3 linked regions of the Homo sapiens genome follow. The protein of the gene in region 3 interacts with the protein of the main gene of each other region in a pairwise test. Each region holds a gene or a part of one and is shown on either strand. Other genes may lie near its edges. The genes, in order: PDLIM3, NCKIPSD and PALLD.

What was found.
Region 1: the proteins of PALLD (region 3) and PDLIM3 interact in a two-hybrid assay, tested with the Homo sapiens proteins (one large-scale study listed by BioGRID and IntAct).
Region 2: the proteins of PALLD (region 3) and NCKIPSD interact in binary tests that used the Homo sapiens proteins (3 or more experiments, as listed by UniProt).

Annotation. Positions count from the first base shown.
Region 1 is NC_000004.12:185,532,628-185,536,983, forward strand, and holds the start of PDLIM3 (PDZ and LIM domain protein 3), read right to left. Parts: upstream 2,881-4,356; 5' UTR 2,808-2,880; coding exon 2,715-2,807; intron 1-2,714. UniProt on the Homo sapiens protein: May play a role in the organization of actin filament arrays within muscle cells.
Region 2 is NC_000003.12:48,675,887-48,679,536, reverse strand, and holds part of NCKIPSD (NCK-interacting protein with SH3 domain), read left to right. Parts: intron 1-79; coding exon 80-160; intron 161-353; coding exon 354-482; intron 483-567; coding exon 568-660; intron 661-800; coding exon 801-973; intron 974-3,650. UniProt on the Homo sapiens protein: Has an important role in stress fiber formation induced by active diaphanous protein homolog 1 (DRF1). Induces microspike formation, in vivo. In vitro, stimulates N-WASP-induced ARP2/3 complex activation in the absence of CDC42.
Region 3 is NC_000004.12:168,503,527-168,507,176, reverse strand, and holds part of PALLD (palladin), read right to left. Parts: intron 1-3,650. UniProt on the Homo sapiens protein: Cytoskeletal protein required for organization of normal actin cytoskeleton. Roles in establishing cell morphology, motility, cell adhesion and cell-extracellular matrix interactions in a variety of cell types.

The sequences.
Region 1 (4,356 bases), about 17 Mb from region 3:
GGGAGAGGAAAGAAATGAAGTTAGCAACTCAAATTGGGATAGGAGATGGTGAAAAGTCATGAATGTTGTGCAAAGACACGCATTTCACTCTCTACAAACAAGTGATGCCGCTGAAGGATTTTTAAGAATGAGAAAGGAGCAATTTGGCATTTTCCAGAGACGGTAAGAATATGCTGTGTGAATTGGACGGGGGAGCCAAATGTCTAGGCGTGGAGCTAGGAAATCTTGAAGAGGGACAGTAGTAGAAAAAATGGAAAGTGGCAGATGTTGAAGACAGCATCAATAAGGCCAGTGATGAACAGGATGGCACAAAACAACTCTTTAGAAATATTGGAACAGGTGTCCATTTTCACATGTGGCCTTCAGAATGCAGGCTTTGGAGGCACACAGACCTAGCGTCAGAGCCTGTCCCACTGCTTGTGATCATCGGCGGGTTAATAAATCTTTTGAAGCCTCATTCTCCTCATTTGCAAAAGGGGATGTCACTACTGCTACTCTCCTAAAGATTATTGTGAGATTTCAGTGAGTTCGTGCACATAAAAGGTTCCCATCAATGCCTGGCAAGCAAGAGAGTACAATAACACACTTACAACCTCACACACTGCCTTTCAAAATGGTGTTAAAATGTTAAAAGCAGTACAACAATTCACCATTTAACAATACTGATAGTTATTTTTCTGTAATACTTTTCTGTAATACTTTTTATTCTTTTCCTTAACAAATTTCAATATTCTTATCATTTCAGTGAAAATATTCTGAATTAGGTGTTCACTAAAGCATAAAAGTTCTTATTGAATAAATAAATGTTCTTATTTATTCAATAAGAATCTACTATATACCTGGCTTTGGGGACACTTGGGATACAAAAATGATTTGGTTTTACCTGCTGTCCTAGAATTAATTAAAGAGAAAAGCCATAATCAAGTGAAATCATATTTGGTCATAAACTGTTATTGAACCAAATGTCAAAAATGAGTGATACAAATTAGTTATGAGTTAGGAATTCCAGATAGAATTGGTTTCCCTAATAATAACTGCCATTATATCAAATATATTTACCAATAGCTATTGTAGTCCAACTCTGGAATGTAAGTACTGCTTTAAAATAAACATTTATAATGTCAACAACTCAAAATTTCAAGCATATGATTAATTATATTGACATACGATTATACTATAATAGCAAAATATTTCTTTTATAAACACCTTAAAAGTTTTCGTGACAAAATTATTTTGGTTAGAATTTAATATAAATATGATTTATTCTGTGTTAGGATTCAAAAGCTTATTCAATTTAAATAAAAACCATACTCCAGAAACTAAAACATTTCTTAGTAGATATAACGGAAACTGTTTTTGTTGGTAAATCTATAATAGGAATTGCTTGGCCCAGGTCACTGAAGCATTTTCTGCTTACTTTACTTAGGAACGTTTTTGGGGGTATGTTGAACAGTTTTCATGTTTCATATAAAAACACGTCAGATGTGTTTATATGTTTTTGAAAAATGTAAAACAAGGCTTGAAACGTTCCATTGTATGCGTCTGTAGGATACACATTTTGACATATTTTTAAAAGGATGTTGGTTCCCAAATCTCATAGGCATATATAAATAAAACAGAATTTAAAAGGTATTACCTTGTTCAAAATCTGTATGAGCAGATCAATCAGATTATAACACATACAATTATAAAATATGGCATGAGAAGAATACAAGAAAATAAAGTATAATACTCTGCAACTAAAAGTATAATATTCTGGAAGTTTACGCCTTTAGGTATTAAATGTTTTATATGTGATAACTGAAATAATACATTAATTTTCTATGAAGAAAAACATTGTGTTAGAAAAAAACCAGCTAGACCAAATAATGCTTTAGAATTAATTCTACAAATTTACTGACAGGAGAGAAACCCTGAGGTTTTATTTTTACCTTGTTTTCTCATTAGACAGTAGAGAACACCAAGTAAAGCTTGACTTTGACATTAAAGCATTATTTTCCGTTTTAGGCTGAGTGGTTTACTTTGCATCAGGTAAACTAAACTGTCTGCCACGTTTTCTTTGTAGCTAGAGTTAGAAGTTGGTAATTCCTAAGCCAAGTTCTCAGCTTTGGAAAACGTGCTCAAAATGCCTGGAAACTGAGGAGTGAGCATTAGGAAGACTTCCCCTGTCTGGGCTGATAGGAGCGGCTCCAGTTTGGCCAACGCAGGTCGTGCCCCGCGAACAGCGCGCTGCTGAACTTTTCATCCGGACGAGAAAAACGCTCAGATGCGCGCCAGCTCCAGGGAATGCCGGGGGGTGCCAGTCCCTCGCCTCTCCCACCCGGGACCCATCATTTGTTACGGAAGGGCGATGGGGTGTGTTTTATTTCTGTTATCACATATAAAACATTTAAAACCTAAAGGGGAGGAGGCACTCGAGCCTGGCAGCCTCGCCTTCCCTGAGCCCAGTGGCTCTCCTCGGAAAGTCGCTGCGGACCCAGAGGATGGGACACCTTTAGAGCGGACTTTGTCAAATCTCTGAGCCGCTCCGCAGCCACTTGACGGAGTTGCCGCCGCCCCCGGAGCTGGGCGCCGAAGCCCGGGAGCCAGCAGCGCCCCGTCCGCCCGCCCTCGCGCGCTTTCTGGCCGCCCTCGGCCCCGGGGCATCCACTGCGTCCCCCCGGACGCCGCCGGAGTCCCCACCTCGCAGCAAAAGCAAGAATGCCGACACCTACCCTGGTGATGACCAAAGGCTGGTTGAAGTCTATGCCCCCTGAGAGCCTGAAGCCCCAGGGCGCAGGGCCCGGGAGGATCACCGTCTGGGGCATGCCGCCTTCCTCCCGCCCACCGGGCTCTAAGTGTCCCCGCGCAGGGCAGCCACTCCGCGCCGGGCGGCGTCCTGGCCCCGACCCGGGCGGGGGCGCTTTATCCCCGCTGGGGGTGACGTCACCGCCCCGCCGTCCTCCCCGCCCCCTCCCACCCCGGAGAGCTCCAACTTTGGAAGCGAGAGCCGCGCCAGCCCCGCGGGAGTGCGCAGCCCGGCCGGCTGGGGCAGCCTCCCGGGCCGCGGCGGGCGCGGGGGCTTCGGGTTACAGCGTCCGTCGCTCTCTTGAAGTCACACCTGTCTCCCTGTTTATCTTCTGCTTGGAGCGCAGCAGTGCACTTTGTTGGAAGCGAAAGCAGCCAGACCACAGCCTCCATGCTTTCAATTAAAACGAGCATCATCGATACAATAAGTTATTTAGCAGTTTCGAGTGCGTTAATATTTACTTACGACCTCTGCGGCTTTGGCCAAATTACTTAATGTCCTTTTAAATTTTTATTTTATTTATTTATTTTTCTTAGAGACCGGGTCTCCACTTTGTTGCCCAGGCTAGTCTTGAACTCCTGGGCTCAAACAATCTTCCCACCTCAGCCTCCCAAAGTGCAGGAGAGTCTGGCCGGGGTCCTGTGGTAGTCTCAGTGTGGACTCAAGTATTTCTGGTGTTACGCGTTGGGATGTTGTGATTCCCAAAGGGAGAGGGGAGAATGAGGGAAGAGAAATAAGAAATGCTTTAAACACTCAAGAATAAGGGTCTTGGACTTAATGCCCCATATGATAGGGTCGTATTGGTCCAGGAGGACAGAGCTGCAGCAGACTTTTAAGAGGGCAGTCTGTTTGGAAGCAGTTTTAAGACTGATGGAGGAAAGAGAAAGGAGATGCAGAAAGCAGTAAGCAGTAAGCAGTAAGCAAAGCGAACCAGCCTGGGCAAATGTAAATCACAAAGGTAGGATGGGCATTACTTTGTCCGCTGTGGTGGATTACATAAAAGTCCCAGGGGATAAGCACTTTCTAGCTCCACACATTTCCCAGTGCCCCATCTATGCTGGACCATCGAGGAGCTGAACATTGTGTGTCCTGCTGACTGCCTGTTTGGGCTGTGGCTGTATCACTGCAGAGCACATTTCTTCAGTCAGCTGCTGGCTCTGTCTGCGTGGTGCAGACATACACGTGCACACACACAGAGGTCCATTCAGAAAAAAAAAATCAGACAAGTCATTTGGTGTTGTGTAATTATAGTAATTGTTTTTACCTTACTTCACGAGCTGGCTTATATAAACAGCTGATTTTTTCTTTGCCTTTTTGCTGGTCATTTTGGCATCATTTAGATGTAGCCAATATCTATACAATATCCACATAATATCTGATGAGTTCTTTCTTTTTGTTTTTTTTTTTTTTTTTTGGAGACAGAGTCTTAATCTGTCACCCAGGCTTGATGAGTTCCTAAGGCTTTGCAGAGAGTGTGGAAAGCAGGGACATGAGATGGGCAGTTTTCCTACATCCTGCTCTTCACGGAGACCAGCAGGAAAGTGCTCAGAAGTGACTGTTAAGGTAGA
Region 2 (3,650 bases), on a different chromosome or scaffold from region 3:
ATCTGGAGGGTGTTCCTGCCATCTGCTGGGGTTTCCTGCCATCTTTGGGGACTCTGACTGCCTGCCTTGTCCCCCCCAGACCACCAGAAACTCTGTTACTCTGCCCTCATCCTGGCCATGGTCTTCTCCATGGGAGAGGCAGTGCCCTATGCACACTATGGTAAGAATGCAGTAACCGACCAGCTGATCACAGGTCCTAAGCCAGGGCCCATTGCCCGAGGGCCTGGGACCTGCTGACTACACAGCCTAGCAGGGAGAGGCTATCCCCAAGGCTCACAGAAAGCCAGGAAGGGTGGGTGGTGCGGGGGTCGGAGGGGAATGGGGCTGCAGACTTCTGTGCGCCCCTCTCCCAGAGCACCTGGGCACGCCTTTCGCCCAGTTCCTACTGAACATCGTCGAGGATGGGCTGCCCTTGGACACCACAGAGCAGCTGCCGGACCTCTGCGTGAACCTGCTTCTGGCTCTCAACCTGCACCTGCCAGGTGGGGTGGGGCCTGGCTGGGCGGTGGCTGAGCACATGGTGGCTCTCAGGCTCAGCACCCTGTCTATACCCATGTCCTTCCTTAGCTGCTGACCAGAATGTCATCATGGCTGCCCTGAGCAAACACGCCAATGTCAAGATCTTCTCCGAGAAGCTGTTGTTGCTCCTGAACAGAGGGGGTGAGGGCCCGGGAATCTGCGCGGGTACCACTTCCATGCCCTGTGACTCCATGACCCCTGCAATGACTCCCGTAACCCCCTGGGGTGACTCTGGGATCCCCACAAGGTCCACCCTGACCGCTATGACCCCTGCCTCCTAGATGACCCTGTGCGCATCTTCAAACATGAGCCACAGCCACCACACTCTGTCCTCAAGTTCCTGCAGGACGTGTTTGGCAGCCCGGCCACAGCTGCCATCTTCTACCACACAGACATGATGGCTCTCATTGACATCACTGTGCGGCACATCGCAGACCTGTCACCAGGAGACAAGGTGCCTGGAGGTGGCTGCAGCAGCGGGGGTCACTGTGTGGAAACTGAAACAAAATGGTGGGGGGCATGACATTGAGTGGAGATGAGGGGGCAAGGCCACTGCTGGAGCCAGGTAAGTGTAGGAGGCCATGATAGGTGCACCAAGACCCAAAGGAGCCAGCCATGAGGTGATCTGGAGGTGGTGGGGCTGGAGGAGGCTGGAGAGGAGGGAGTGGAGGGAGATGAGGCATGGAGGATGGAGTTTACACAAAGCCTCGGAGGCTGCTGCAAGAGGTTGTGATCTCAGGACCGGGGAATGTGATGTGATTAACATCCCACATGGAATCAACTGCATGCCAGCAGAGTGGAAGCCAGCCAGGGAGGAAGCAGCCTCAGTGGTCCAGGTGGCATGGATGGGGTGGGGATGGGATAGGTCGTGGCAGTGGCAGTGGCGAGAAGAGGCCAGCTGTGGAGTGTTTAGTAAGTGGATCTGGCAGGGCTTGCCACTTGATTTATCTTGAGCAGCTAGATGGATGAAGTGCTGATTTTTGAAGTTGGGGAGGCTGGGAGAACTTCTTGGGGGAAAATAGAGAGTCGTGTTTTGAATGTGTCAAGAATGAGGAGATATCTGCTAGACACCCAGGTACCGAGGGCATCAGGGAGGCAGTGGGGAATGAGTTGAGACTAGAGAGACATTTCGGAGTGGTCTATGCAGAGATACGATGGGAAGCCTGTGACAATGTGATTGCCTCAGAAATGAGATAGATAGGCAGGTCAGCGGGAAGTTCGGGCTGCAGCCCTGGGCACAGCTGAAACAACTAGGGAGAAACCCAGGAAGAGAACCAAGAAAGCAGGAGCCCAAAGCCACATGTTTAGAGGAAGACGATCAGCCATCTCTATACCGTTAGGAGCCTGAGCGAGACTGGGGTTGGCCATTGGATTCACCACACAGAGGTCAGTGGTGCCTGACAAGCAGTGTCAGTGGGGTGCAAGGAGGAGAGTCTGAATGAAAGTTTGAGAGAGCTTGAAGTTATTGGGGAGTAGAAATGAGGGGAGGGTTGGAAGCAGTAAATGGAGACAACTCTTGTGAATTTTCTATTAAGGGGAAGAGAAAAATGGAAGGGAGGTTGCTGGAGAGAGATGACATGGGGATAGGGAGAGTGTTTTTTTGGGGGTTTTTTGTTGTTGTTGTTTGTTTGTTTGTTTGTCTCCCACTGTTGCCAAGGCTGGAGTGTAGTGGCACGATCGTGGCTCACTGTAACCTCCGCCTCCTGGTTTCAAGTGATTCTCCTGCCTCAGCCTCCCAAGTTGCTGGGATTACAGTCACCCACTACCACACCCAGCTAATTTTTATATTTTAGCAGAGACAGGGTTTCGCCATGTTGGCCAGGCTGGTCTTGAACTCCTGACCTCATGCAATCCACCTGCCTCAGCCTCCCAAAGTGTTGGGATTACAGGTGTGAGCCACCGTGCCTGGCCAGGGAGAGTGTTTTGAAGATGGGGGATGTTGGCCAGGCGCGGTGGCTCATGCTTGTAATCCCAGCACTTTGGGAGGCTGAGGTGGGTGGATCACTTGAGGTCAGGAATTCGAGACCAGCCTGGTCAAAGTGGTCTCTACTAAAAATACAAAATACGAAAAATACAAAAATTAGCTGGGTATGGTGGTGGGAGCCTGTAATCCCACCTACTTGGGAGGCTGAGGCAGGAGAATTGCTTGAACCCGGGAGGTGGAGGTTGCTGTGAGCCAAGATCACACCACTGCACTCCAGCTTGGGTGACAGATGGGGGATGTTGGCCAGGTGCAGTGGCTCACGCCTATAATCCCAGCACTTTGGGAGGCCGAAGTGGGAGGATCACTTGAGTCCATGAGTTCAAGATCAGCCTGGGCAACATAGTGAGACCTCTGTATAACCTGATGGACCACAGTAGAAAATAAAATTAGCTGGGCATGGTGGTATGCACCTGTAATTCCAACTACTTTGGAGGCTGAAGTGGGAAGATTACTTGAGCCCAGGAGGTCAAGGCTGCATTGAGCCATGATTGTGTCATTGCACTCCAGCCTGGGCAACAAAGCCAGACCTTGTCTCTTTAAAAAACAAAAACAAAAATGGTACGGATGATGGTGCATGTTCTGAGCCGGAGGGAATGATCCAGCAAGCACAGAGAGATGGATGATGTGTTGGAGATGGTGAGCCACCACAGGAGTCAAGTGGATGGGGCAGGAGGGGAGAGTTCAGGTCCAGGCCCACATGGACAGGAGCTAGGGCTGCTCATTCTGGTAGGGACAGGTGAGATGTGGGTACTGAGGGGAAAGACGGGTTTCTGCAAGATTACTTCTGTATTCTCTATGAAGCACAAGGCCAGCTGACAAGGTAGGTAGGTTTCAAAGACAGAGAAGGTGGACATTATTACTACTCTAAGGGAGAGTGACACAGCAGAGAAAAGCAGTGGGAGGCTCAGGCAGTGCTGTGTGTCCGTTTGAGGTTTGCGGTGGTGAATGACATTCAGGCCTGCACATGGCTCTGCATTTGTCTATAGCTTAGACGCTGGTGTTTGATGTGCAGGCACCTCAGTATGACTCCCAGGGCTGGGACTTAGCAGGGTGTGCTGCCTAAAGGAGGTTTTGGTATTATTTCTCTAATTAAAGGTAAAAAGAGAAATGAGGGATGTTGAGGGAAGCAGACATCAGGTCAGTGGAC
Region 3 (3,650 bases):
TTATTTTATTTTATTTTTTAAGCTTGATTTTGATTTGAGCCTTTTGCAGTTGAGGGACCTTTGGTAACTCTGGTGTTGATGTCTAGGAGATTTGAGATGCTGATCTAGAGCCCAGGAGAAGGGAGAACAGAGCTGGATTGGGGATTATTAGCCTATGGGTGGCACTTTAAGACATGGGAATGCATAAGGTCATCGAGGAAAAAAGAAGGAGAAGATAGAATCCTTCGAATAATCACAGGGAAGCAAGAAAAGCTAGATATCGTGGAAGCTGGGAAAGAAAATATCTCAGGAAGCAGTACATGTCCTTTTGATTTTTGATTTTAGCAACTTGGGAATATTTAGCACCATTGCAACAGCACTTTCGGTGTATGCAACAGAAATATAAGCCAGATTGCTACATGGAAGGAAAGGAAAGAAGGAAAGAAAGAAAATATTACAGGTGTGGTGGTTTGTTTTGAAAAGATCATAGAAAGAAGGAGAGACAGAAGGTAGTAGTTGAACAAAAGTATAGACTCTGGTGAGGTTTGTTCATTTTTAGGATAGAGCGCTGTAACATGTTTTATACAAACCAAATTAGGCAGTAAGAAGGGAGAAGCTGAAAATAAATGTAAAAAAGCGGGGATGATTTATAGGTCAGCTCTCAAAAGATGTAAGAAGAAATGAGTTATTATAGGACAAACGGAGTATGAGGTGTTCAGCTTCCAGTAGGAAGGGGGCAGTTCTTTCATTGTTAAAGGAGAGAAGTAACAAAGGGTGTATGTGTGTTGGGGCATGGGGGGCGGTAAGAGAGAAAGGGAGAGAGAGAGAAACATGAGATTCTCTGCAAAATTTGTAATAGAAAGAAAGGAGAGTTCCCAAACTGAGACTTCTGTGCATTGGAGGTTTATGAGGACAGAAGATGATTTGAAATAGCTGTTGTAGAAAAAGGGGGAAGGAAGTTTTGTAAGAAGGATTTATGGGTAGAGGTGAGGGCCTGGTTGAAGTTAGATGTGATGTATTTATAGTGTCATTAATCTGTGTGATTGTGCAATTCTCTCCACCAGAGCTCAGCCATCCAGGTGAAGGTACAGAGATAGATGATCCCAGTTTGACATGCAGGTAAAATGGGAGGGAAGTGGGCAAGGCCATTGAAAATATGGTCAAGGAATAGGTGGCCTTTGACATATATGCTGGGTTGGAATTCATGGGTAGGAGTTTGAATGTAGAGATTGTCTTTGTTTTTTTGAACCAATGTCAGAGTTGAGTAGTTGCAACAGAGACTATATGGCACATGAAGTCTAAAATATTTACCTGCACTTTTACAGGAAAAAATTGCCAACCCCTTCTATAGAACATTAGCTACCTAATGACTTCATATAACACATATAAAGGCAATTAATGATCACGATGATTGATAATGATAATGGCTAATAATGGACTGCTTACCCTGCGGTGGGCATTGTGCCCAGAGTCATCATGTAGATTATTTCATTTAAAACCCTCACAGCAGCCTCTGGTTTAGAAAGGAGGAAATGGAGGCAGAAAATCTGAGTGGGAGAACCAAGGTTTAAGCCCAGGGAATAACTCCAGAGCTCATGTTCTATGCACTTTACCATCTTACCATTGTAGTTTTCATAATTGAGAATCCTAAGCAATGTATCAAACTAACAAAACTGTGGATCAGAAATCAGAGTTCTGCTATTAATTCAATTGCTTTTTAGTTCCAAATGAACATAATATGATACATTTTAAAACTTCACAAGGAGCATTATATAACAAAGCTTAAAGCAAACTTCTGAATGATGAAAACATTTTCAATTCTTAATGTAGGGAGTGTTTGCTGGAGGCAGATTATCTCACCTGCTTATTAACTCATATTTTGGTTTTAAAGAGGCGCCATCTGACAGGATCCAGTAGTCAGGATTAGGTGTAGCTTTAAAACTGCTTGCACATTGAAAAAGAAAATAATAGTTCTATGGCATATCTGGTTCAGGCTTAATTTGCAAGCCAGTTATTGCCGCGGGAACATGCACGTGGTCTAGGGAAAATGCTCATTCAATGAGGATGAACAAGGGCGGTTTCCAAGCGGGCCAAGTTCACTGGAAAATTGTGCTTCAGAGATTTCCATGTCAGTCAGCACTCCAAAATGAAAAGGTCAAAATCAAAAGGAATGAAACACAATCACAAACATCTCCATCATTTGCCTGAGATTTCATGTTTTCTGTCAAACAGTGCTCTTGGTAATTCTATGCCGGTGTGATAGACACAGAAGATGAAATAGACTAAAAAGACCCACTAATACTGCTGTTAATGAGTGAAGAGGAAATGAGGTAAACACCAACGCCATTAAAGTGGTTCTACTTTAGTAAGTAGCATTGAAAGATTTTGAAATTTTGAAGAATAAAGGATTCTTTGGCATCTTTAAATTGTCCTGTCCCCTGCCTCCTCACTTTTCTCAGAAGGAATCTGAATTTCCTAGAAATTCTTCTGTCTTCTTCTTTTTCTCATCCTTGTCTTATCCATCATCTCCAGCTTTAGCAGTTTAGCTTAATTGTCATTTTCCCTAAAACGCTCATTAGCCACAGCCATTTTTTTTTTTTTTTTGAGTTGGAGTCTTGCTTTGTCGCCCAGGCTGGAGTGCAGTGGCATGATCTCAGTTCACTGCAAGATCCACCTGCCGGGTTCAAGAGATTCTCCTTCCTCAGTCTCCCGAGTAGCTGGGGCTACAGGTGCCTGCCACCACTCCCAGCTGATTTTTGTATTTTTAGTAGAGACAGGGTTTCACCATATTGGCCAGGCTGGTCTTGAACTCCTGACCTTGTGATCTGCCCACCTTAGCCTCCCAAAATGCTGGGATTACAGGTGTGAGCCACCATGCCTGGCCAACCACAACTGTTTTTTAATTTGCTTGAAGTTGCGTAGCATTATGTTCTTCACCATGGAGGAAATGACTCTTCCTTGGCCTCGCCCATCTTACAGTCATGCTTCCTTTCTTCTACTTCCCTTTCCTGGAATAGTAAGTTGAACATGAAATCAACGGAACAACTGCTTAGTTGTGCAAGAGAAGCTTCAAGGAGGACAAAGATGAGGCAGGCGTAGTTATTCTCCTTAAATGATCTTACAATCCAGTAGGAGGGATTAGACAAGAGTAAAAAATAACTCAGTTACAAGGAGGAGCGTGATAATTTCTATTAAAATAGTTTCAACAAATTGCAGTAAGGGATAAAAATGGTAAGAGAGATCATAGGTACAAATTGTGTCACGTCACTCTTTTGGTTTTTATTTTTTTCCTATGATGCTCCCCGGCTGATGAGAAAAGTTCCAAAGCACGATGTGCAGGTTAAACATACCCGTGGACAGCCTGAGCTGATGGAAATGCTCCAGCCTCACCCTCTGTCATCACCAACACACATGCACTCAGGCCTCCCTGGCCCACTCACCATTCCTCAAACAATTCAGATTCTTTCTGGTTTTCACACCTTTGCACTTGCTGCTCCTTTTGCTTAAAATGTGCTTCCTTTCTCTTTTTCTTTTTCTTTTTTTTTTTTTTTGAGATGGAGTCTCGCTCTGTTGCCCAGGCTGGAGTGCAGTGGCTCCATCTTGGCTCACTGCAACCTCCGCCTCCCAGGTTCACACCATTCTCTTGCCTCAGCCTCCTGAGTAGCTGGGAC